Homo sapiens: one gene and its partner. The protein of the gene in region 1 interacts with the protein of each later gene in a pairwise test. Each region holds a gene or a part of one and is shown on either strand. Other genes may lie near its edges.

What was found.
Region 2: the proteins of WIPF2 (region 1) and TVP23A interact in binary tests that used the Homo sapiens proteins (3 or more experiments, as listed by UniProt).

The regions. Positions count from the first base shown.
Region 1 is NC_000017.11:40,212,749-40,224,619, forward strand, and holds the start of WIPF2 (WAS/WASL-interacting protein family member 2), read left to right. Parts: upstream 1-6,555; 5' UTR 6,556-6,744; exon of another isoform or gene 6,745-6,769; intron 6,770-6,922; exon of another isoform or gene 6,923-7,172; intron 7,173-11,871. UniProt on the Homo sapiens protein: Plays an active role in the formation of cell surface protrusions downstream of activated PDGFB receptors. Plays an important role in actin-microspike formation through cooperation with WASL.
Region 2 is NC_000016.10:10,806,990-10,818,013, reverse strand, and holds part of TVP23A (Golgi apparatus membrane protein TVP23 homolog A), read left to right. Parts: intron 1-9,407; exon of another isoform or gene 9,408-9,477; intron 9,478-11,024.

The DNA of each region.
Region 1 (11,871 bases):
TTTGAAATCATGTGTCCAGGCAGGTTATATTATCTGTTCATTTCACTTTGGGATATTAGTGTTGCAAAATATTTGTTATAAGAAAGGAACATTGGGACTGGGTGTAGTGGCTTACACATGTAATCCCAGCACTCTAGGAGGCTAAGGCAGGAGGATCACTGGAACCTAGGCGTTCCAGATCAGCCTGGGTAACACAGTGAGACCTTGTCTCTACTAAAAACAAAAAAAAAATTAGCTGGGCATGGTGGTGTGGGCCTGTAGTCACAGCTATTTGGAAAGCTGTGGCAGGATTGCTTGAACCTTGGAGTTCCAAGTTACAGCCACCTATGATTGTGCTACTGCATTCCAGCCTGGGTGACGGAGCAAGACCCTGTGACATTGGATATGGTAGGGTGGAAAGTCACCAGCCAGGACATTAAGAACGCAGACTCAGCCAGGCATGGTGACTCATGCCTGTAATCCCAGCCCTTTGGGAGGCTGAGGCAGGCAGATCACGAGGTCAGGAGTTCGAGACCAGCCTGGCTAACAGTGAAACCCTGTCTCTAAGAAAAATGCAAAAATTAGCCAGGTGTGGTGGCATGCGCCTGTAGTCCCAGCTACTCGGGAGGCTGAGGCAGGAGAATCGCTTGAACCTGGGAGGTGAAGGTTGAAGTGAGCCGAGGTCGCACCATTGCACTCAAGCCTGGGTGACAGAATGAGACTCCATCTAAAAAAAAAACACACAAAGGCCGGGCGCGGTGGCTCATGCCTGTAATCCCAGCACTTTGGGAGGCCGAGGTGGGTGGATCATGAGGTCAGGAGATCGAGACCATCCTGGCTAACACAGTGAAACCCTGTCTCTACTAAAAATACAAAAAATTAGCCGGGCGTGGTGGTGGGTGCCTGTTGTCCCAGCTACTCAGGAGGCTGAGGCAGGAGAATGGCGTGAACCCGGGAGGTGGAGCTTGCAGTGAGCCGAGATCGTGCCACTGCACTCCAGCCTGGGCGACAGAGTGAGACTCCGTCTCAAAAAAACAAAAAACAAAAAACAAAAAAAAACCACACACACAGGCTCAGCGGGGTGCGGTGGCTCACGCCTGTAATCCCAGCACTTTGGGAGTCCGAGGAGGGTGGATCACAAGGTCAGGAGTTCCAGACCAGCCTGGCCAACATAGTGAAACCCCTTCTCTACTAAAAAATACAAAAATTAGCCAGGTGTGGTGGAGCACGCCTGTAATTCCAGGTACTCAGGAGGCTGATGCAGGAGAATTGCTTGAACCCAGGAGGTGGAGTTTGCAGTGAGCTGAAATCATGCCACTGCTCTCCAGCCTGGGCGACAGGGCAAGATGTGTCTCGAAAAAAAAAAAAGGGGTTGGGCGCAGTAGCACATTCCTCTAATTCCAGCACTTTGGGAGGCCAAGGCTGGCGGATCACCTGAGGTCAGGAGTTCAAGACCAGCCTGACCAACATGGATAAACCCCGTCTCTACTAAAAATACAAAATTAGCTGGGCATGGTGGCACATGCCTGTAATCCCAGCTACTAGGGAGGCTGAGGCAGCAGAATAGTTTGAACCCAGGAGGTGGAGGTTGCGGTGAGCCGAGATCTCGCCATTGCACTCTAGCCTGGGCAACAAGAGTGAAACTCTGTCTCAAAAAAAAAAAAAAAAAATGCCGGGCGCAGTGGCTCACGCCTGTAATCCCAGCACTTTGGGAGGCCGAGGCGGGCGGATCACGAGGTCAGGAGATTGAGACCATCCTGGCTAACATGGTGAAACCCCGTCTCTACCAAAAATACAAAAAAAAAAAATTAGCCAGGTGTGGTGGTGGGCTCCTGTAGTCCCAGCTACTCAGGAGGCTGAGGCAGGAGAATGGTGTGAGCCTGGGAGGTGGAACTTGCAGTGAGCCGAGATCTCGCCACTGCACTCCAGCCTGGGCGAGAGAGCGAGACTCCATCTCAAAACAAACAAACAAACAAACAAAAAAACAAAGGGCCAGGTGTGGTGGCTTACACCTGTAATCCCAGCACTTTGGGAGGCCAAGGCAGGTGGATCACTTGAGGTCAGGAATTCAAGACCAGCCTGGCAAATATGATGAAACCTCATTTCTACTAAAAATACAAAAACTAGCCGGGCGTGCTGGCATGTGCCTGCAATCCCAGCTACTCGGGAGGCTGAAGCAGAAGAATTGCTTGAACCCGGGAGGCAGAGGTTGCAGTGAGCCGAGATCGCGCCATTGCACTTCAGCCTGGGCAACACAGCAAGACTGTCTGAAACAAACAAACAAAAAACACAGACTCTGGAGATACTTTTACTTTCGCTACTTATAGATATGTGACTTTGAGCAAGATGATTAACCTTGCTGTGTCTGTTTCTTCATCTGTAAAATGGGCTTAAAAATATCTGCCTCAGAAAGTTATTGAGAGGATTAAATGAGCTATGTGAGGTTTTGACAGTGCCTGGCACATGGTAAGTGTTACTAAATGTCAAACTTATGATGACTTCTGTAACCTAATTTCTTGCCTCCCCCAGAAGTTCTAACTCTATATCAATATATTTTCTGAACCAGGTGAGGTGGCTCACACCTGTAATCCCAGCACTTTGGGAGGCCGAAGTAGGAGGATCACTTGAGGCCAGGAGTTCCACACCACCTGGGCAACAAAGGGAGATGCTGTGTCTGTGAAAAGAAAAAAATTGGCCGGGCACCGTGGCTCACGCCTGTAATTCTAGCACTTTGGGAGGCCTAGGCAGGTGGATCACGAGGTCAGGAGATCGAGACCATCCTGGCTAACACGGTGAAACCTCATCTCTACTGAAAATACAAAAAATTAGCTGGGCGTGGTGGCGGGCGCTTGTAGTCCCAGCTACTTGGGAGGCTGAGGCAGGAGAATGGCATGAACCCTGGAGGCGGAGCTTGCAGTGAGCCGAGATTGCACCACTGCACTCCAGCCTGGGGGACAGAGCGAGATTCCTTCTCAAAAAAAAAAGAAAGAAAGAAAAAGAAAAAAAATGTAAAAATTAGCTGCATGTGGTCACCAGTGCCTGCAGTCCCAAATAGGAGGCTGAGGCAGAAGGACCACTTGAGCCCAGAAGTTCAAGACTACAGGCCAGGTGTGGTGGCTCACGCCCATAATCCCAGCACTTTGGGAGACCAAGGTGGATGGATTATCTGAGATCAGGAGTTTGAGACCAGCCTGGCCAACTTGGTGAAACCCCATCTCTACTAAAAACACAAAAATTAGGGCCAGGCGCAGTGGCTCACAACTCTAATCCCAGCACTTTGGAAGGCCAAGGCAGGTGGATCACCTGAGGTCTGGAGTTTGAGACCAACCTTGCCTACATGGTGAAACCCCATCTCTACTAAAAATACAAAAAATTAGCCGGGCGTGTTGGCAGGCGCCTGTAATCCCAGCTACTCGGGAGGCTGAGGCAGGAGAATCGCTTGAACCCGGGAGGCGAGCTGAGATTGCGCCATTGCACTCCAGCCTGGGCAACAAGAGAGAAACTCTGTCTCAAAAAAAAAAAAATACAAAAATTAGACAGGCATGGTGGCTGGTGCCTGTAGTCCCAGCTACTCGGGAGGCTGAGGCAGGAGAATCGCTTGAAGCCAGGAGATGGAGGTTGCATTGAGCTGAGATCACACCACTGCACTCCAGCCTGAGCAATAGAGTGAGACTCATTTTCAAAAAATAGAAAAAATAAAAAGACTGCAGGCCAGGCGCAGTGGCTCATACCTGTAATCCCAGCACTTCAGGAGGCCGAGGCGGGCGGATCATGAGGTCAGGAGATCGAGCCCATCCTGGGTAACATGGTGAAACCTCGTCTTTACTAAAACTACAAAAAAAAAAAAAAAATTAGCCAGGCATGGTGGCAGGTGCCTGTAGTCCCAGCTACTCGGGAGGCTGAGGCAGGAGAATGGTGTGAACCCAGGAGGCGGAGCTTGCAGTGAGCCGAGATTGCGCCACTGCACTCTAGCCTGTGCGTCAGAGCGAGACTCTGTCTCCAAAAAAAAAAAAAAAAAAGACTGCAGTGAGCCATTACTGTGCCACTGCACTGCAGCATGTCTTTAAAAGACCCTGTCTCTTAAAAAAAAAAAAAAGTGCGTTCAGTTATTGGAATGTGCCATGATTCTTCTTGCTTTGCCCAAACTCTCCCTACAATGCTTTTCCTTCACTTCTTCCCTGGTCAATTCCTACCTGTCCCTCAAGTCTCACTTAGAATATGGGTATGGCCTCACTTAGTTACTTTCTTTTTTCTTCCTTTAGACAGGGTTTCACTCTATTGCTCGGGCTGGAGTGCAGTGGCCAATCATGGCTCAGCCCAGCCTTGATCTCCTGGGCTTAAGTGATCCTCCCATATCAGCCTCCCAAGTAGCTGGAACCACAGGCTCACACCACCGTGTCCAGCTAATTTTTTTTTTTTTTTTTGAGACAGAGTCTCACTCTCGTTGCCCAGGCTAGAGTGCAATGGAGTGATCTCAGCTCACCGCTACCTCCGCCTCCTGGGTTCAAGCGATTCTCCTGCCTCAGCATCCCAAGTAGCTGGGATTACAGGCATGTGCCAACACACCTGGCTAATTTTGTATTTGTAGTAGAGACGGGGTTTCACCATGTTGGTCAGGTTGGTCTCGAACTCCCCACCTCAGGTGATCTGCCCGCCTTGGCCTCCCAAAGTGCTGGGATTACGGGCGTGAGCCACCGTGCCCGGTTATATCCGGGTAATTTTTGTAGTAACAAGATTTCACCATGTTTCCCAGGCTGGTCTTGAACTTCTGGGCTCAAGCGATCCCCCCTGTCAGCCTCCCAAAGTGCTGGGATTACAGGCATGAGCCACTGCACTTGGGCCATTTACCTTTTTCATGAAGCCTATATCACTATTTCCCCAAGTCTGGGTGAGATGTCCCTATATTCATCCCAGCGGCTGCCCTTATCACAGAGTGTGTGATAGAGCATGGGGCTTTACATTAGCTACAGTGGGCAGTGAATGCCCTCTGAGGACGAAGCATTTGCAGTAAGGCTTGAAAAATGAGGAAGAGGCGGAGGATAGCCAGTACACAGTCCCTGAGGTGGGAACTGCTGAATGGGGTACATTGCAGTGATAGAAATCAGGTCCTCATAATGTAGAGTGAGTGAGGAGGGGACAGGCAGGGGATGAGGTTGAAGAGTTGGGAGGCTCTGGTAAGGTGTTTGGACCCACCATCTCCCTGGCTCCATCGCCCCACGTATGGCCATGCAGGATGTAGACAGCTGAAAATCTTTACCTCGTGTCCTTGATCCCTATGCCTGCTGTGTTCCCTGCCTTCTCTGATTAATAATAAAATTCCATTCATCCTTCAAGGCCCAGCTCCAAACCATTTAGGAAACCTCCTTCCATTCTTTAGCAGGAATTAATTGCTCCCTTGTCTGACGTCCCACAGCACTAATCACACGCTGACTTGTATCTCAGCTAGCTGTTTATGCCAGTCTGCCCACCAACGTAGTGAGTTCCCTGAGGGCAGAGGCTCTGTCTTAGTCACCTCTGTAGCCATCTCCTGGTGTTTAGCAGGTACTCAATGTGACATTTACTTGACTAGTGGGTGGTGCCTAGTACTACTCATGGCAGAATAGAAGGAAAACAAAAATAATAACAACTTATGCTCTATCACGTTTTCCCATTCATTAACTGATTTCAGCTTTGCAACAACTCTATGAGACAGACGGGACAGGCACTATTAGACCCATTTTACAGATAGGGTAGCTAAGGCCCAATGGCACACAGCTTGTAAGTAATGGGGACTAAGTCCCAATCTTGCCCCCTTACTTCGGATTCTGTGCTGGGAATGGAATTAAACCAAGAGTATTTTGAAGCTATAATGGAAAGCGCTTTTCTGGGTGGACTAGGGAGAGATACTTAGTCAGCTGTCAGGGTTTAACAGCAGCTCCATCAAAGAGGGCACAGGATTTCTCTCTCTGGCCCAAGCAGCTGGAGGGGTCCACAGCACCATCCTATAGCCCTGGAAGCTGGAGGAAACCCCAGCCCGAGAAAGAAGAGACGGTGTTCGAGTCAGGTGGGTAAGATGACGTAAATGATGACTTGTGAGCAGTGGCCTGCCTCTGTTGCCATGACAACCGGAGCTTGACTACTTGGCCTTTGCAAGGTTGGCCGAGGCGGGTTCTTCGTTAACTCGAGATTAAGGAAGGATATTTAGGGGGGAGGGTGTGTGTGTGTGCGGCGGATTAAAGACGAAAGGAGTATATTCAACAATGACTGTTTAGCTCAGTGGTTCTCCACCTTGGCAACACGTTAGAATCACCTGCAACAATTTCCTGATGCCTAGGCTGCACCCCAGAATTAAATTATAATTTCCAGGGGTGGGAACCAGGCATCATAGTATTTAAATCTTGCCAGGTGATTCCAATTGCAGCTAAAGTTGCAAACCCAGCTTTTAGCTGGTAAGCGGAATTCCTGTGACCTTCCTAAGATGGCGTCCACTCAACCGCTTCCGCCTTTACGTGGGCCGGCAGGGGGCGGGCTTCCCAGGGGCGCATGCGTCTCGCATCTCTCCGCTCCCTGCTCTCTCCTCCTTTTTCCCCCGCCTCCATTTTGTTCGCGGACGCTGGGGACGGTGGGAGCAGATCCATTTCCGGGTTGGCAAAAGGGGCGGTGGCGGCGGCGGCGGCGGCGGCGGCGGCGGCGACGGCGAGAAAGAGCTTGCCGGGGGGCGAGCAGGACAGGACGAAGCCGGAGTGTAGGCGGCAGAGGATTCGCTCCCAGAGCAGCTGCGGCCAGGTCGGAAAGAGGCCGGGGCGGCTGGGTCAGTCGCTGAAATGACCTGCGGACCTGAGTGGGAGGGAAAGTCGCGGGGAGGGGGGCTCGGGGCGGGGCTTGAGAAGAGAGGGGGGCATTAGAGGAGGGGCCGGAGGGGGAGAGGGGTCTTGCGGGTGGGGCCTGAGGGGCGGGGGGCCGGGGGACTGTATCGGAAGAACCTGGAGGAGAGAGGGCGTGGGGAATCTGGGGAGGAGTGGTCGAATATTGGTATGGGGCGAGCGGGGACTGGAAAAATGGGGAGGAACGTTTTTGAGAGACAGGCAATAAGGGCTCCTGAAGGGTTGGGTGAGTTAAGGCGGCAACTCTGTGAGGAACGAGGTAATCGTGCGCAAAAAGGGAGACGGGAACGGAGGACCTGTTGGGAACGGCTAATTAGCAGGATGCTGTGGGTGAGGAGTCCAGTGTGACATTTTGGGGATTGAGTTAGGTGAAAGCTAGTGTTTGGGAAGATGGCTCGGGAAACTGCTTACACTAGAGGGAATCTTGAGAGCGTTCTTTGAAAAGGAATCAGAATTTAGTTAAAGGTTGGATTGAGAATGTTAAGATGCGCATTGGAACGTCTGGAGTTGAGGGTTCATGTTGAAGTGGTGTGAAGTGAGGGAAGATGGAATTTTTTTTTTTTTGTTTTAAAGGTGGGGTCTGGCTATGTTGCTCAGACTAGTCTTGAACTCCTGGGCTCAAGCGATCTTCCCACCTTGGACTCCCAGAGTGCTGGGATTACAGGTGTGAGCCACTGCACCCGGCCAAGATGGAAATGTTAAAGTGTTCAGCATGGCAGTGTGTATGGTCGAGTTTTTTATCAGGAAGGAAAGTTCTTAAAAATAGCATTGAGGCAAGGAACTGATATGTGATGGAATTCTTTTTTCTTTTTTTTTCTTTTAAGAGACGTGGTCTCACTCTGTCGCCCGGGCTGGAGTGCAGTGGCATGATCATGGCTCCTTAAAGCCTCGACCTCCCGGGCTGAAGTGGTCCTTCCACCTAAGCCCCGCCAATAGCTGGGACCACAGGTGTGACCACTACTCCCGCCTAACGTGTGTGTGTGTATATATATATATATATATATATATATATATATATATATATATATGTATATATATATATTTTTTTGTTGTTGTTGTTGGAGACAGAGTCTTGCCCTGTTGTCCAGGCTAGTCTGGAATTCCTGGGCTCAAGTGATCCTCCTGTCTCGGCCTCCGCAAGTGCTGGGATTACAGGGATGAGCCACTGTGCCTGGCCCAGAATTCGTTTTTTTTTTTTTTTTGAGATGGAGTCTCGCTCAGTGGCCTAGGCTGGAGTGTAGCGGTGCGATCTCGGCTCACTGCAAGCTCCGCCTCCCGGGTTCACGCCCATTCTTCTGCCTCAGCCTCCCGAGTAGCTGGGACTATAGGTGCCCACCACCACACCTGGCTAATTTTTTTTTGAATTTTTAGTAGAGACGGGGTTTCACTGTGTTAGCCAGGATGGATGGTCTGGATCTCCTGACCTCGTGATCCGCCCGCCTCTGCCTCCCAGAGTTCTGGGATTAGAGGCGTGAGCCCCTGCGCCTGTCCAGAATTCATATTTTTTAAAGGACTTGAATAATCTGTTATTGCTTTGGGCTCTCCCAGGGTCCCCGTCCTTTTTCATGCTGTTATTTTTGCCTTACGGTTTTGGTTTTTGACTGTCTTACTGAATGTTTTTGGCTATTCTGTTCTCCTTTTACAAATCAGAAGAGAACCACAGGGAATAAGGACAGTTTTAGCCTACCTATGGATTTAGTAAATAACTTCAAGGCAAATTATTAAGCTCTCATTTTTTTCCCCTTTGAAATATAGGTTTTCTCTGTCCCTGCCTCTAAAAGTTTGTCTTAACACATGGGATCTTTAAAGTGGTTGCATAGAAGTGATCTCTGAAAATGAGATTGAGATATTGATATTTAAAAGACATACAATGGTGCACCTGCCTGTAATCCCAGCTACTTGGGAGGCTGAGGCAGGAGGATTGCTTGAGTCTAAGAGTTCGAGACCATTCTGGGCAACGTAGCAATACCCCATCTCTCTCTCTGTCTCTTTTTTTGTTTGTTTGTTTAAGACGGAGTCTCGCTCTTTCACCCAGGCTGGAGTGCAGTGGCGTGATCTCGGCTCACTGCAACCTCTGCCTGCCGGATTCAAGCGCTTCTCCTGCCTCAGTCCCCCAAGTAACTGGTACTATAGGCATGCACCACCACGCCCAGCTAATTTTTTGTATTTTAGTAGAGATGGGGTTTCACCATGTTGGTCAGGCTGGTCTCGAACTCCTGACTTCAGGTGATCCACCCACCTCGGCCTCCCAAAGTGTTGAGATTACAGGCATGAGCTACCACACCTGGCCGCATGTTTAGTTTTTTAACTCTTATTAATGTCAACTTTTAAAAGTAAAAATTTCATATTGTGTTACATTGGTTGCCATCAAGATGAAGATAGGGAAGTTAAGAGTTGGGGAAGGTGGAGATGAATGAAGTCAATTGATGAAGACTAGTAGAATGTAGTGTTGGTTTTTTTATTTGTTTATTTATTTATTTTGAGACAGAGTCTTGCTGTATTGCCCAGGCTGGAGTGCAATGGCACAATCTTGGCTCACTGCAACCTCTGTCTCCTGGGTTCAAGCAATTCTCCTGGCTCAGCCTCCCAAGTAGCTGGGATTACAGGCGCGTGCTGCCACGCCCAGCTAATTTTTGTATTTTTAGTAGAGACAGGGTTTCACCGTATTGGCCAGGCTGGTCTCGAACTCCTGACCTCGTGATCTGCCCACCTTGGCCTCCCAAAGTGCTGGGATTACAGGTGTGAGCCACCGCGCCTGGCCGACCTGTCTCTTAAAGGAAAACAAGGCTGGGCGCGCTGGCTCATGCCTATAATCCCAACGCTTTGGGAGGCCAAGGTGGTGGATCACCTGAGATTGCAGTGAGCTGAGATCGCGCCATTGCACTCCAGCCTGGGCAACAAGAGCGAAACTCCACCTCAACAACAACAACAACAACAACAAAAGGAAACATGTTTTTCTGTTTCTTCCTCTTAGCCTTGCTCATGTGTGTGTGTGTTTGTGTGTGTGTGTGTGTGTCTGCGTGCCAGCCAGGGAAGAACTGGTTTTGATTTGATGCATATTCAGTTTTTTTTTTTTTTTTTTTTTTTTTTTTTTTTTGAGACAGAGTTTCGCTCCTGCTGCCCAGGCTGGAGTGGAATGGCGCAGTCTTGGCTCACTGCAACCTCCGCCTGCCGGATTCAAGCGCTTCTCCTGCCTCAGTCCCCCAAGTAACTGGTACTATAGGCATGCACCACCACGCCCAGCTAATTTTTTGTATTTTAGTAGAGATGGGGTTTCACCATGTTGGTCAGGCTGGTCTCGAACTCCTGACTTCAGGTGATCCACCCACCTCGGCCTCCCAAAGTGTTGAGATTACAGGCATGAGCTACCACACCTGGCCGCATGTTTAGTTTTTTAACTCTTATTAATGTCAACTTTTAAAAGTAAAAATTTCATATTGTGTTACATTGGTTGCCATCAAGATGAAGATAGGGAAGTTAAGAGTTGGGGAAGGTGGAGATGAATGAAGTCAATTGATGAAGACTAGTAGAATGTAGTGTTTGTTTTTTTATTTGTTTATTTATTTATTTTGAGACAGAGTCTTGCTGTATTGCCCAGGCTGGAGTGCAATGGCACAATCTTGGCTCACTGCAACCTCTGTCTCCTGGGTTCAAGCAATTCTCCTGGCTCAGCCTCCCAAGTAGCTGGGATTACAGGCATGTGCCACCTGGCTAATTTTTGTATTTTTAGTAGAGACAGGGTTTTGCCATGTTGGCCAGGCTGGTCATTTACTAATTCCACCTCACACTTGATACTAGAGTAGTGTTTACCCTAGCTGGTACTGATAAGTTATGTGATAGCACCAAGGTGAAATGCAGGAGAGGTGTGAACATTGGAGTTTTCAGGTTTTACTGATGGCTTTTACGAAGGGAAGAGATTCTAGACTCACTAGGTGTTTTTAGGAAAAAAAAAAGGCAAGAGGCAAGAGACAGAAGTCTTGTTCTGTTGAAGAGAAAATTTTTTTTTGGGTTTTTTTTTTTTTTTTTTGAGACGGAGTCTCGCTCAGTTGCCCAGGCTGGAGTGCAATGGCATGATCTCTGCTCACTGCAACCTCCACCTCCCAGGTTCAAGCGATTCTCCTGCCTCAGCCTCCTGAGTAGCTGGGTGCCATCACGCCTGGCTAATTTTTGTATTTTTGTAGAGACGAGGTTTCACTGTGTTGGTCAGGCTGGTCTCGAACTTCTGACCTTGTGATCTGCCAGTCTCGGCCTCCCAAAGTGCTGGGATTACAGGCGTGAGCCACCGCGCCCGGCCCGAGAAAATTATTAAATGTTCTTTCTTTACTTGTGTTCTCTGATTGGGAGAGTAACCTGGTATATGTTAGTCTGTTTTCCTGCTCTGAAATAACTGTGAAATTCATGGGCTCTTGGTTCAGGCAGCTTCAGCAAACATAGTCTTCTTACAACCCCAGGAAGAGTTGCAGGCTACAAAATATATGTACTTATTTGGGAGTAAAAACCTGCTTAATATTATGCTATTGCAACCTACAGTGTACCTTTTTGGTTTGTTTTTTAAGGGGATTTTGAGATAACATATGGAGGCTCGGTGCTCCTGGGCGGACTTTTGGTACAGCCTGCTTATTTTTTTTTTCTTTTCTTTTCTTTTTTTTTTTTTTTTTTGAGACGGAGTCTCACTTTGTCCCCCAGGCTGGAGTGCAGTGGCGCAATCTCGGCTCACTGCAAGCTCCGCCTCCCAGGTTCACGCCATTCTCCTGCCTCAGCCTCCTGAGGAGCTGGACTACAGGCGCCTGCCACCACGCCCGGCTGATTTTTTGTATTTTTTTTTTTTTTTTTTTTGTAGTAGAGACGGGGTTTCAACTTGTTAGCGAGGATGTCTTGATCTCCTGACCTTGTGATCCACCCGCCTCGGCCTCCCAAAGTGCTGAAATTACGGGCGTGAGCCACCGCGCCCGGCCCAGCCTGCTTCTTTAACATAATGATTTTCCATTTTTCCTATCCTGTCACAGTTTTCCGTTGCTCTGCTTGAGCC
Region 2 (11,024 bases), on another chromosome or scaffold:
CTACTGTGTGCCAGGTCTGGGGCTGGGGACATATCTGTGGACACATCAGACAAAGTCCCTGCCCTCCTGGAGCCTGCATTGGGAGAGGGAGGAAGAAGGGGTGGAGTTGATGTTGAACAGGCAAGGAGATTAATGAGATAATTGAATGTGAGAAGAAAATCAGCCCTGTGATGAAAGAGAAGGTAACTAGAGAAGGCCACTTGCCTTAGTGCAGCCATGGAGGGCCTCTCTGAGGAGGTGGCATTTGAGCTGAGACCAGAATGATGAGAAGCAGCCAGCCATGGGAGACTCCAGAGGGAGAGTGTTCCAAGCTGAAGGAACAGCAAGCGCAAAGGCCCTGGGGCTATGTTGTAAGATCAGAGAAAGCCACTGAGGCCAGAGGGGAGCAAGCTTGGCAGTGGGCTGGACAAGTGGAAGAGAGCTTGGAGTTTTATTCTAATCCCTGCTGAGTCTAGCTAGACAGACTTGTCCTGGGTCAAGTCACTTAACTGCCTGAGACCTCTAGCATCCCAGAAGGTGGCATGACCAAGGCATGAGGGATGACCTGTGAACGTGGTTGCCGATGGCCCAGGCGGCAGCCACTTCTAGAAACACCCACAGCTCAGCCTCACTCACCCACCCAGTTCTGCTTCCAGCTATCAGAGCCAGTAGGCATGGGACGAGCCCTGGCACCCAAATGCCATTCCTTGTAAAGTCTCTGTTTTTAAAATCAAACTCTCTGATTCAAACCTAATAAACCCCAGAAAGTAATAGACTGTATTAGTTTCCTATGGCCGCTAGAACAAATTACCATTATCATCTTGGCTTAAGACAAAAGAAGTTTATTCTCCTGCAGTTCTGGAGGCCAGAAGTCCACAGTCAGTGTTCCTGGGCTGAAACCAAGGTGGCAGCAGTGCCACACTCCCTTCGGAAGAATTAGGGGAAAATCCATTCTTTGCCTTTTCCAGCTTTTGGTGACTGCTGGCATTCTGTGGCTTGTGGCCTGTTCCTCCGTCTTCAAGGCCAGTGTTATAGCATGTTCACATCTCTCTCTGTTCCATGGTCAGGTGACGTGTGTGTGTGTGTGTGTGTGTGTGTGTGTGTGTGTGAAGTTTCCCTGTGCCTCTTTCTTTTTTTTTATTTTATTTATTTTTTATTATTATTGTACTTTAAGTTTTAGGGTACATGTGCACAACGTGAAGGTTCGTTACATATGTATACATGTGCCATGTTGGTGTGCTGCACCCATTAACTCGTCATTTAGCATTAGGTATATCACCTAATGCTATCCCTCCCCACTTCCCCCGTGCCTCTTTCTTATAAGGACTATTGTGTTGGCATTTAGCGTCCACCCAGATAATCTAGGATAACCTTTGCATCTCAAGATCCTTAATTATAGGCTGAGTGCATGGCTCACACCTGTAAGTAATCTCAGCACTTTGGGAGGCCAAGGCGGGCAGATCACTTGAGGTCAGAAGTTTGTGACCAGCCTGGCCAACATGGTGAAACCCTGTTTCTACAAAAAATACAAAAATTAGCTGGGTGTAGTGGCATGCACCTGTAATCTCAGCCACTCAGGAGGCTGGGGAAGGAGAATCACTTGAACCCGGGAGGTAGAGGCTGCAGTGGGCTGAGATCACACCACTACACTCCAGTCTGGGCGACAGAGTGAGACCCTGTCTCAAAAAAAAAAAATTCTTAATTAAATAATTAAATTACATCTGCAAAGTCCCTTTCATCATATATGGTGGCTGTCACAATTTCTGGGGATTAGAACCTGGATTTCTTTTTTTTTTTTTTTTTTTTGAGATAGGGTTTTGCTCTGTTGCCAAGGCTATATAGTGCAGTAGTACAATTATGGCTCACTGGAACCTCAAACTTTTGGGTTCAAGAGTTCCTCCTGCCTCAGCCTCCCTAGTAGCTAGGACTATAGGTGTTGCCACCATGCCAGGCTAATTTTTTAAAAATTTAATTTTGTAGAGATGGGGTCTTGGTATGTTGTCCAGGCTGATCTGGAACTTCCGGCCTCAAGTACTCTTCCCGTGTCAGCCTCTTAAAGCCTTGGGATTACAGGCATGAGCCACTGCACCCATCCAGGACCTGGATATTTTCGGAGGCTATTATTCATCCCACCATAATGGCCAATGATTATCTTTAAGGGAAGACACTGCAAATGAAGATTCCAAAAGAACTGGAATCCTGGGTAAAGAATCTTCTAGAACATCTGAACTCATATGTGTTCAATTTCTATTGAGTATCTACTGTATGCTCAACTCTGGGCTAGTGGCTGGGGAAATGCAGTGTTCAGGACCCCACTCCTGCCTTTACAGATTGCCCAATCTAGGGCAGGTTTGCTTAATGTTAGCACTCCAGACATTTTAGGCCAGATACTTCTTTGCTGTAAGGAGTGTCCTGTGCACCGTGGGATGTTTAGCAGCATTCCTGGCCTCTATTCACCAGATGCCAGTAGCAGCCCATCCATAAAGTCTCAGGCATTGCCAAATATCCTCTGTGGGGCAAACTTGCCCCCGGTTGAAAACCACTGGTTTGCAGGGTGGGAGTAGGCATACCAGTGGCTATTACAACTCAGTATTTTTGTTTTGTTTTGTTTTTGTTTTTGTTTTTGAGATGGAGTCTCACTGTCACCCACGCTGGAGCACAGTGGTGCAATCTCGGCTCACTACAACCTCTGCCTCTTGGGTTCAAGCAGTTCTCCCGCCTCAGTCTCCCAAGTAGCTGGGACTGCAGGTGCACGCCACCACGCTTGGCTGATTTTTATGTTTTTTGTTTTGTTTTGTTTTAGTAGAGATGGAGTTTCGCCATGTTGGCCAGGCTGGTCTCAAACTCCTGATCTCAGCCTCCCTACCTACCTACTTCAGCCTCCCACAGTGCTGAGATTATAGGTGTGAGCCACTGTGCCTGGCCAGAACTCAGTATTTTAAACGCTGGGATAGGCAGAAGCTGGGGCTCCTATCCTGGCCAGAGAAGGAGGTACCAGCTAAGCTGGGACCCACAGGTAGGGTAGGAGTTGGTTAGGCTGGGAAGGGTAGATATACCATGGGGAGGCTTGGAGGTAAGGTCATGAATTTAGGGTGGTTCCATGTGGCTCAAGACCCAGGTGCTGGGAAGTGGCCTGCGTGGAGATCGGGGCCAGACCCTGCAGCACTTAGCAACCAAGCTCCAAGCTCTGGAGGTGCATTGTCCACTGAACCTTCTATGAGGATGGGGCTGTGCCTTTATCTGTGCTGTGCAGCACGGTGGCCTCAGCCACCTGTGGTGATTAAATGTCTGAAATGTGGCCAGGGCGCCTGAGGGACAAATGTTTTGATATTATTTAATTAATTTGAATGTAAATAGCCACATGTGGCTGTGGCATTGGGCAGGGCAGTTCCAGAGTTCGGTCACCATGGAAGGATTTTGCTCAGGGCAGTGATGGAGGCTGGGTTGTTGGGGTGGAAGTAGGATAGGAGATCAGACCAAGGCACTGGCAGGGATGACAGAGGAAAGGGGCCCAGAGGCACAGGGGAGGTAGAATCGGCCCGCCTTGCTGGTGGTCAAGATGTGGGGTAGGGACAGGGATCATCAGGGTGACACTCAGGCTGGTGGTCTGGTGAGTCAGGTGAAGAAGCACTTCTGGGGGAAAGATGTTGAACTCAGAGTGGTCCTTGTTAGTCTGTGTTGGAACATTCTAGTAGCCAGTGGACAGCTGGGAGGAGAGGCCAGGAGCTCGAGAAGTCACCAGGGCTGCAATCAGAGATCTGGGAGGCAGCAGTTCATGTATCCAGGTGGGTATGTTTGAGAGCCACCCATCCCAGAATCCTCGGTGTGCCTAATGCAGATTCCTGGGTCTGGCCCTGGACTTATTTAACCAGATTCACAGGGGATGGGCCTAGGAACATGAATTTAAAATAGCACCCCATTGATTCTGATGTGTAGGAATGTAGAGATGGCTCTAAAATCCTGAGAACAAATGAATTTACCCAGATTGCAGTGTAGAAAGGGAATTTTTTTTTTTTTTTTTTTTTTTTTTTTTTTGAGATGGAGTTTCACTCTTTTTGCCCAGGCTGGAGTGCAGTGGTGCGATCTCGGCTCACTGCAACCTCTGCCTCCCGGGTTCAAGTGATTCTCCTGCCTCAGCCTCCTGAGTAGCTGGGATTACAGGTGCGTGCCACCACGCTGGCTAATTTTGTATTTTTAGTAGAGACAGGGTTTCATCATGTTGGCCAGGCTTGAACTCCTGATCTTGAGTGATCCTAGTGCCTTGGCCTCCCAAAGTGCTGGGATTACAGGCGTGAGCCACCATGCCCGGCCTAGAAAGGGAATTCTTAACTGAGGTCTACAGATGGGCTTCAGGGGTTCAGGAAACCTCTGAAAACTATTATCTAAGTTTCATATGTGTGTTGTTTTAGAAAAAGGATCCAAACTTTATTTATTTATTTGTTTATTTGTTTGTTTATGAGACGGAGTCTTGCTATGTTGTCCATGCTGATCTCAAACTCCTGGACTCAAGCGATCTCTCTGCCTCATCTTCCCAAAGTGCTCCCAAAGGATCCAAACATTAATTGGATTATCAAATGGGCCCATGATCCAAAAAAGTTAAGAATCGCTAGTATAGAGTGAAAACAGTTATTTGTAAATCCCTTGTTGAAATGGATTCCAGGCTGACATCGAAAGGAGGTGATGCTGTGGAAGGGGGCCTGTCACAGGAGTCTGGGACATTGGGTTCATCTCTTCCTTTATCACTTTCTGGCTTTGTGATTTTTGGACAGGTCACCTTACTTTGCTGGGCCTCCATTGGCCAGTCGGTAAAATGGGGATAATTGTATCAGCCTGACTTCACCACGTGGTTATTATACAGTTTATTTACTAAATATTTATTCAACATCTGCCAGGGGCAGGTGCTGGGCTAAGCCCTGGGGATGGAGCTCTGGTCTCTGCTCTTTCTGTCCCTGGTTCCAGGTCAGTGAGGTGCAGTGTTGCGGTGGGGGGCCTGGGAAGTACATCACATCTTGCAGGATCAGTGGAGGGTGTGATTCCACAGCAGAGCTGGGCACACAGAGGAAATGTTAGCCATGCTGTATGTGTTTTTCCCCGGTGGGCAAACTTTTTATTTCTTTTTACTTTTTTTTTCAACTTTAAAAAACTGTGATTAAAAAAAACCCACAGCGTAAAATTCCATCTTAGTCATTTTAAATTATACAGTTTAGTAGTTCAAGTATAGTCACGTTGTGAAACAGAGTGTTTTCATCTTGCAAAACTGAAACTCTGTGCCGTTTAACAACTCTCCTTCCCCCAGCCCCTGGTAAATACCATTCTCCTTTCTGTCTGTATGCATTTGACTACTCTAGGGACCCCATAAAAGGGTCATACAGTATTTGTCCTTTTTTTATTGGCTTACTTCACTTAGCATAACGTCCTCAAGTTTCATCCATGTTACAAAATGTGCCAGAATTTCCTTCCTTTTTAAGGCTGGATAATAGTTCCATGATATGAATAAACTATGTTTTGTTGACCCATTCATCCACTTGGGTACACTTGTACCTCTTGCTGTTGAGAACAGTACTGCAATGAATGTGGGTATGCAAATCTCTTTTTGAGATTCTGCTTTCAATTCTTTTGGCCATATACCCACAAGTGGGATTGCTGGATCCTATGGTAGTTCTATTTTTAATTTTTTGAGGAACTACCATACTGTTTTCCACATCAGTTACACCATTTTACAATCCCATCAACACTGTACAAGGGTCCCAGTTTCTCCGCATCCTTGCCAACATTGTTATTGACTGTGTTTTTGATAGTAACCACCTCATGGGTGTGATAACCATGGTATTTCGTTGTGGTGTAGATTGGCATATCCCTAATGGTTAATGATGCTGCTGAGCATTTTTTCATGTGCTATGTGTCCACTTGTATATCACCTTTGGAGAAATGTCTATTCAAGTCTCTTGCCCGTTTTTTTTAATCAGTTATCGGATTTTTGTTGTTGAGGTCTTTATTCTGTATATTAATATTTTCTCTTATTCTATAGGCTGCCTTTTCATTCTGTTGGTTGTGTCTTCTGATGCACAAAAGTTTTTAGGTTTAATGTAATTCCGTTTGCCTTTTTGTACTTTTTTTTTTTTTTTTTTTTTGAGACGGAGTCTTGCTCTGTCCCCCAGGCTGGAGTGCAGTGGCGTGATCTTGGCTCACTGCAAGCTCCACTTCCCGGGTTCACGCCATTCTCCTGCCTCAGCCTGCCGAGTAGATGGGACTACAGGTGCCAGCCACCATGCCCGGCTAACTTTTTGTATTTTTAGTAGAGACGGGGTTTCACCATGTTAGCCAGGATGGTCTCGATCTCCTGACCTCGTGATCCGCCCGCCTCGGCCTCCTAAAGTGGCCGATTTGTACCTTTTGTTTCCTTTGCTTTTAGTGTCAGTGTATGTGTGTGTGTGTGTGTGTTTAATTTAATATAATATAATTCATGGCCAGGCACTGTGGCTCATGCCTGTAGTTCCAGCACTTTGGGAGGCTGAGTCAGGTGGATTGCTTGAGGCCAGGAGTTTGAGACCAGCCTGAGCAACATGGCAAAACCCCGTTATCTACAGAAAATACAAAAAGTAGCCAGACGTGGTGGCACACACCTGTAGTCCCAGGTACTTGGGAGGCTGAGGTAGGAAGATTGCTTGAGCCTGGGAGGTCAAGGCTGCAGTAAGCCATTATCACACCACTGCACTCTAGCCTGGGTGACAGAGCAAGATCCTGTCTCAAAAAACAAAATAAATAAAAAGAAATATAATTCACATTCCACCAATTTCTTCTTTAAAAGTGTATGATTCAGTTTTGATTTTGATACATTCACAAGGTTGTACATCCATTACTACTATGTAGTTCCAGAAGTTTTTCACTGCGCCAAATGGGAGCCCTGTACCCATCAGACAGTCCCTACCCATCTTCCCTTTCCCCAAGCCCCTGGGAACCACTAGTCTACTTTCTGTTCCTATGAATTTGCCTGTTCCGGACATTTCATGTAAATGAAATCTGGGTTAGTCATGGATCTCCAAAGAAACAAAACCAATAGGATATCTGTAAGTATGGAGAAAGAGATTTATTATGAGGAATTCATTCATGCAATTTTGGAGACTGAGAAGTCCCACGATCTGCCATCCACAAGCAGCAGGCCCAGGAACGCCGGTGGCATAAAACCCATCCTAGCCCGAAGGCCTGGGAACCAGGGGAGCCTACAGTGTCTCATTCTGAATCTGAAAGCCCCAGAACAGAGGGGCCGACGTGTAAGGCCTAGTCTGACTCCAAAGGCCCCAAAACCAGGAGGTATGATGTCTGAGAGGAGATGAGGACGGCTATCCTAGCTCAAGCAGGGAGAGGAAATTCCCTCTTCCTTTCTTTGTTGTCGTATTCAGGCCCTCAAAGGTTTGGATAATGCCCATCCAGATTGGGAAGGGAGGGCCTTCTTTTTTCTTTTCTTTTCTTTTCTTTTTTTTTTTTTTTGAGACAGGGTCTTGCTCTGTCACCCAGGCTGGAATACCATGGTGTGATCTCAACTCACTGCAGCCTCCACCTCCCGGGCTCAATTGATCCTCCTGCCTCAGCCTCCTGAGTAGCTGGGACTACAGGCATGCACCACCACGCCTGCCTAATTTTTCTATTTTTTGTAGAGACGGGATCACTATGTTGCCCAGGCTGGTCTTGAGCTCCAGAGCTCAAGTGATCCTCCCACCTTGGCCTCTCAAAGTGCTGGGATTACAGCCATGAGCCACTGCATGAGGGTGGATCTTCTTTTCTCCGTCCACCAATTCAAATGCTAATTTTTTTTTTTTCCTAGAAACACCTTCACAGACCCAGATGTGATCTGGGTATCCCTTAGCCCAGTCTAGGTGACACATGTTTTGTACAATATGTGGCTTTTTGTCTGGCTTCTTTCACTTAGCATATTTTCCAGGTTCATCCCGGTTTAGGTGTTTACCATTATTTCATTCCTTTTGATGGTCAAATAATCACCCATTGTGTGGACATACCACATTCTGTTTATCCATTCATACATTGATGGGCATTTGAGTTGTTTCTGCTTTTGTGTTGTTATGAGTAATGTTGCTATGAATGTTTATGTACGTGCTTTTTTTGGGGCATACATTTTTGGTTCTTTTGGGCACATACCTAGGAGTGGAATTGCTGGGCCACATGGTAACTCTGTTTTAGCCGTGCTGTGTTGCAGACCAGCTGTGAGTGAGTGTTGTGGGTTTCCAGCTGCCTTGGGATGCAGGAGGAGCCTGGGCTTTAGGTCAGACAGACCTGGATCTTGATTCTACCACTCCCTAGCCAAGTGACTGCACCCCCACAGTACAGTTCTGGGCCCAAGCTGGCAGGTGCAAATAGGCTTTGATATAAAACTATGTTTCCTCAGCTCTATAGGAAGACAGAGGTAGGGCATCTTCAGCTCATTGGGAGATCTAGCCCCTGCACCCACATAGCTCCTTTTGCTCTACTACTGCAAGAATTGTGTCTGGCTGCCACAGGCGAGAGCCAAAGCACTATGGGTTACCTTGAATCACAGAAGCTGTAGCCTCCGTTTCCCACCAACCTTTTCTATGACTCTGTTTACCCAGACCCAAGGCCTGCTGGCCAACTCAGTCCCTCCAGTGCAGGGGCAGTGGGTGGCAGATACAACAGTCCTCGTGGAGCCTCTGTGCTACGGGAGGCCAGGGTCATTCCCAGGCAGGCCCCCATCAGCCCAGGCCCGATGTTAACCCTTGACTCACAGTGACCTTGAACTTGAACAGTGACCATGACACCTTCTGGGTACCCACTTTTCTTTTCTGTAAAATGGGGTTGATGTTGGCTGTATTATAAGGTTGTAAAAAGATGATTAAATGAGGTGCACAATGTGTTTAGGGGACCTGGCAGGGCTCCTGATGCCCCTTGTGGGCTTCAGAAGTGGCACCTGTTATTCTGATCACGAGTGTGACTTCCGCATCCTGGGCTGTGCAGAGGCATGTTCTCAGCTCACCCCATCACACTGGAGTTCTCCTGGAGTTGGAAACTGTCTTCCTGTGGAAAGTTATGTTATGCTTTCAAGGCACTGTTTTCACAGAATTCCTCCGAACCCAAAGGTCATGGGCTTCCATGAATTTCCACCCAAAGTAGGAAAGTCTCTTCCTGCCACAGACAGATTTCTTAGATCTAATTTTGGTCTCAGCTGTCAGAGCTGGTTTTGTTTGTGGGGTTTGACCAGTGTTTCTTTTTCTTTTGGGGAGTTGTGGGGGGATAAGATCTTGTTCTGTTGCCCAGGCTGGAGTGCAGTGGTGTAATCATGGCTCACTGCAGCCTCAACCCCCTGAGCTCAAGCAATCCTCCCTTCTCAGCCTCCTCAGTAGCTGGGAATACAAGCATGCACTACTACACCCTGCTAATTTTATTTTTATTTTTTGTAGAGACCGGGTCTCAAAACTCCTAGCCTCAGTGATCCTCCTGCCTTGGCCTCCCAAAGTGCTGGGATTAAAGGTATGAGCCACTGCACCCAGCCTGCTTATTATTTCTTGGTTGGTCCTTGTTCAGCCTAGTGAATGTCATATTGAGAAGATCATTGTCCTGTGGTCTCAGACACTACAGGAAATCACATGTTAGTGGGCTCAGGTCTTCAGGCAAACACGTGAAGTAAAAATCACCCCTGAAAATCCCTAACTAGCCAATCAAGTAACTTTTGTCTTTCAAGAAGTCTTTAGCCATCACTTTATCTGCCATTGGATACAAAAGCAGTCCTGGACATGAGCCCCGCTTGAAATTGTTGGCTGCTGTTTGGGGGAACTTATGTTGAATGAAAAATAACAATAGCAAACACTTCCCCAGCACTTACTATATGCAAGCACTATTCCAGGTTTTTTATTTAGCATAATTCATTTCATCTTCATTACAAACCTAGGCACTATCATTTTCTCAGAGTCAAGATTAAAAAGACTGAAGCTAACAGAGAGAGCTGAGTGACTTGCTCAATGTCACACACCTGTTCACTTCAAGGAAGGGATTTGAGCCTGACACGGTGGCATGCACCTGTAATCCCAGTTACTAGGGAGGCTGAGGTGAGAGGATGGCTTCAGTCCAGGAGTTCGAGTCCAGCCTGGACAACATAGCAAGAACCCACCTCTAAAAAGAAAAAACAGAGGAGATTTGAACCCTTGGAATCGGGCTCTAGACTCCATATCTTACATTACATTGTGCGCAGATACTCACAGGGCGAGACACTCAGCGTGAGCTTTGCTGTGAGAACAGCAGATTCAGGGCTTCCATCTTAGGCTTACCCTGGGGAGTACTTTATATGTTCCTCCTGTAAATGCTGATGCAGAATTGACCCCACTCTTTAGAGCAGCTTCTCAGCCTTGGCACTATGGATATTTGAGGCAGATCATTCTATGTGGTGGAGGCTGTCCTATGTATCATAGGATGCTGGGCAGCACCCCAGCCCCCACCCACTACATGCCAGTAGCTTCCAACCCCTCAGATGTGACAATGAAAAATGTCTCCTGATGTGGCCAAGTGTCCCCTCACAGCCACATTGCCCCTGGTTGAGATCTCTGATTTAGATTATCCCCTCTCTGTCTGGGGTTTGGATTTGGATAAGTGAAATTTGTATTTGAGGGAACTCAAAGCACCTCTTAATACTTCTGTGTGTGACATTGACCCAAGAGAAGCCGGAGGTGTGGGGGGCAAGGAAGGAGAGGGCACAGGTGACAGTATTGATGACACCTTGGTGGGCACTCATCCTCTGAAATCAACAATAGCACATCTCTAATTGGTACCCACGCACAGACATGCACACACATCATGCTCCCACACACTAAGGAGAAGATTTTTAGTTTTTCTTTGTTGATTTTCCAGGAGTTCTGCTCACCTCAATGAGTGAGGACCCCTTATCCAGACCCCTGTCCCCTGAGCTTTTGGGGAACAAAGTTATATTGTCACCGGCTCTCTAAAATCTATTTTGAAATTATAGAAATATGACACATAAGCAGGTCCCATCAAGAGCTGATTGTTTAATTTTAAGGAAGGTCCAT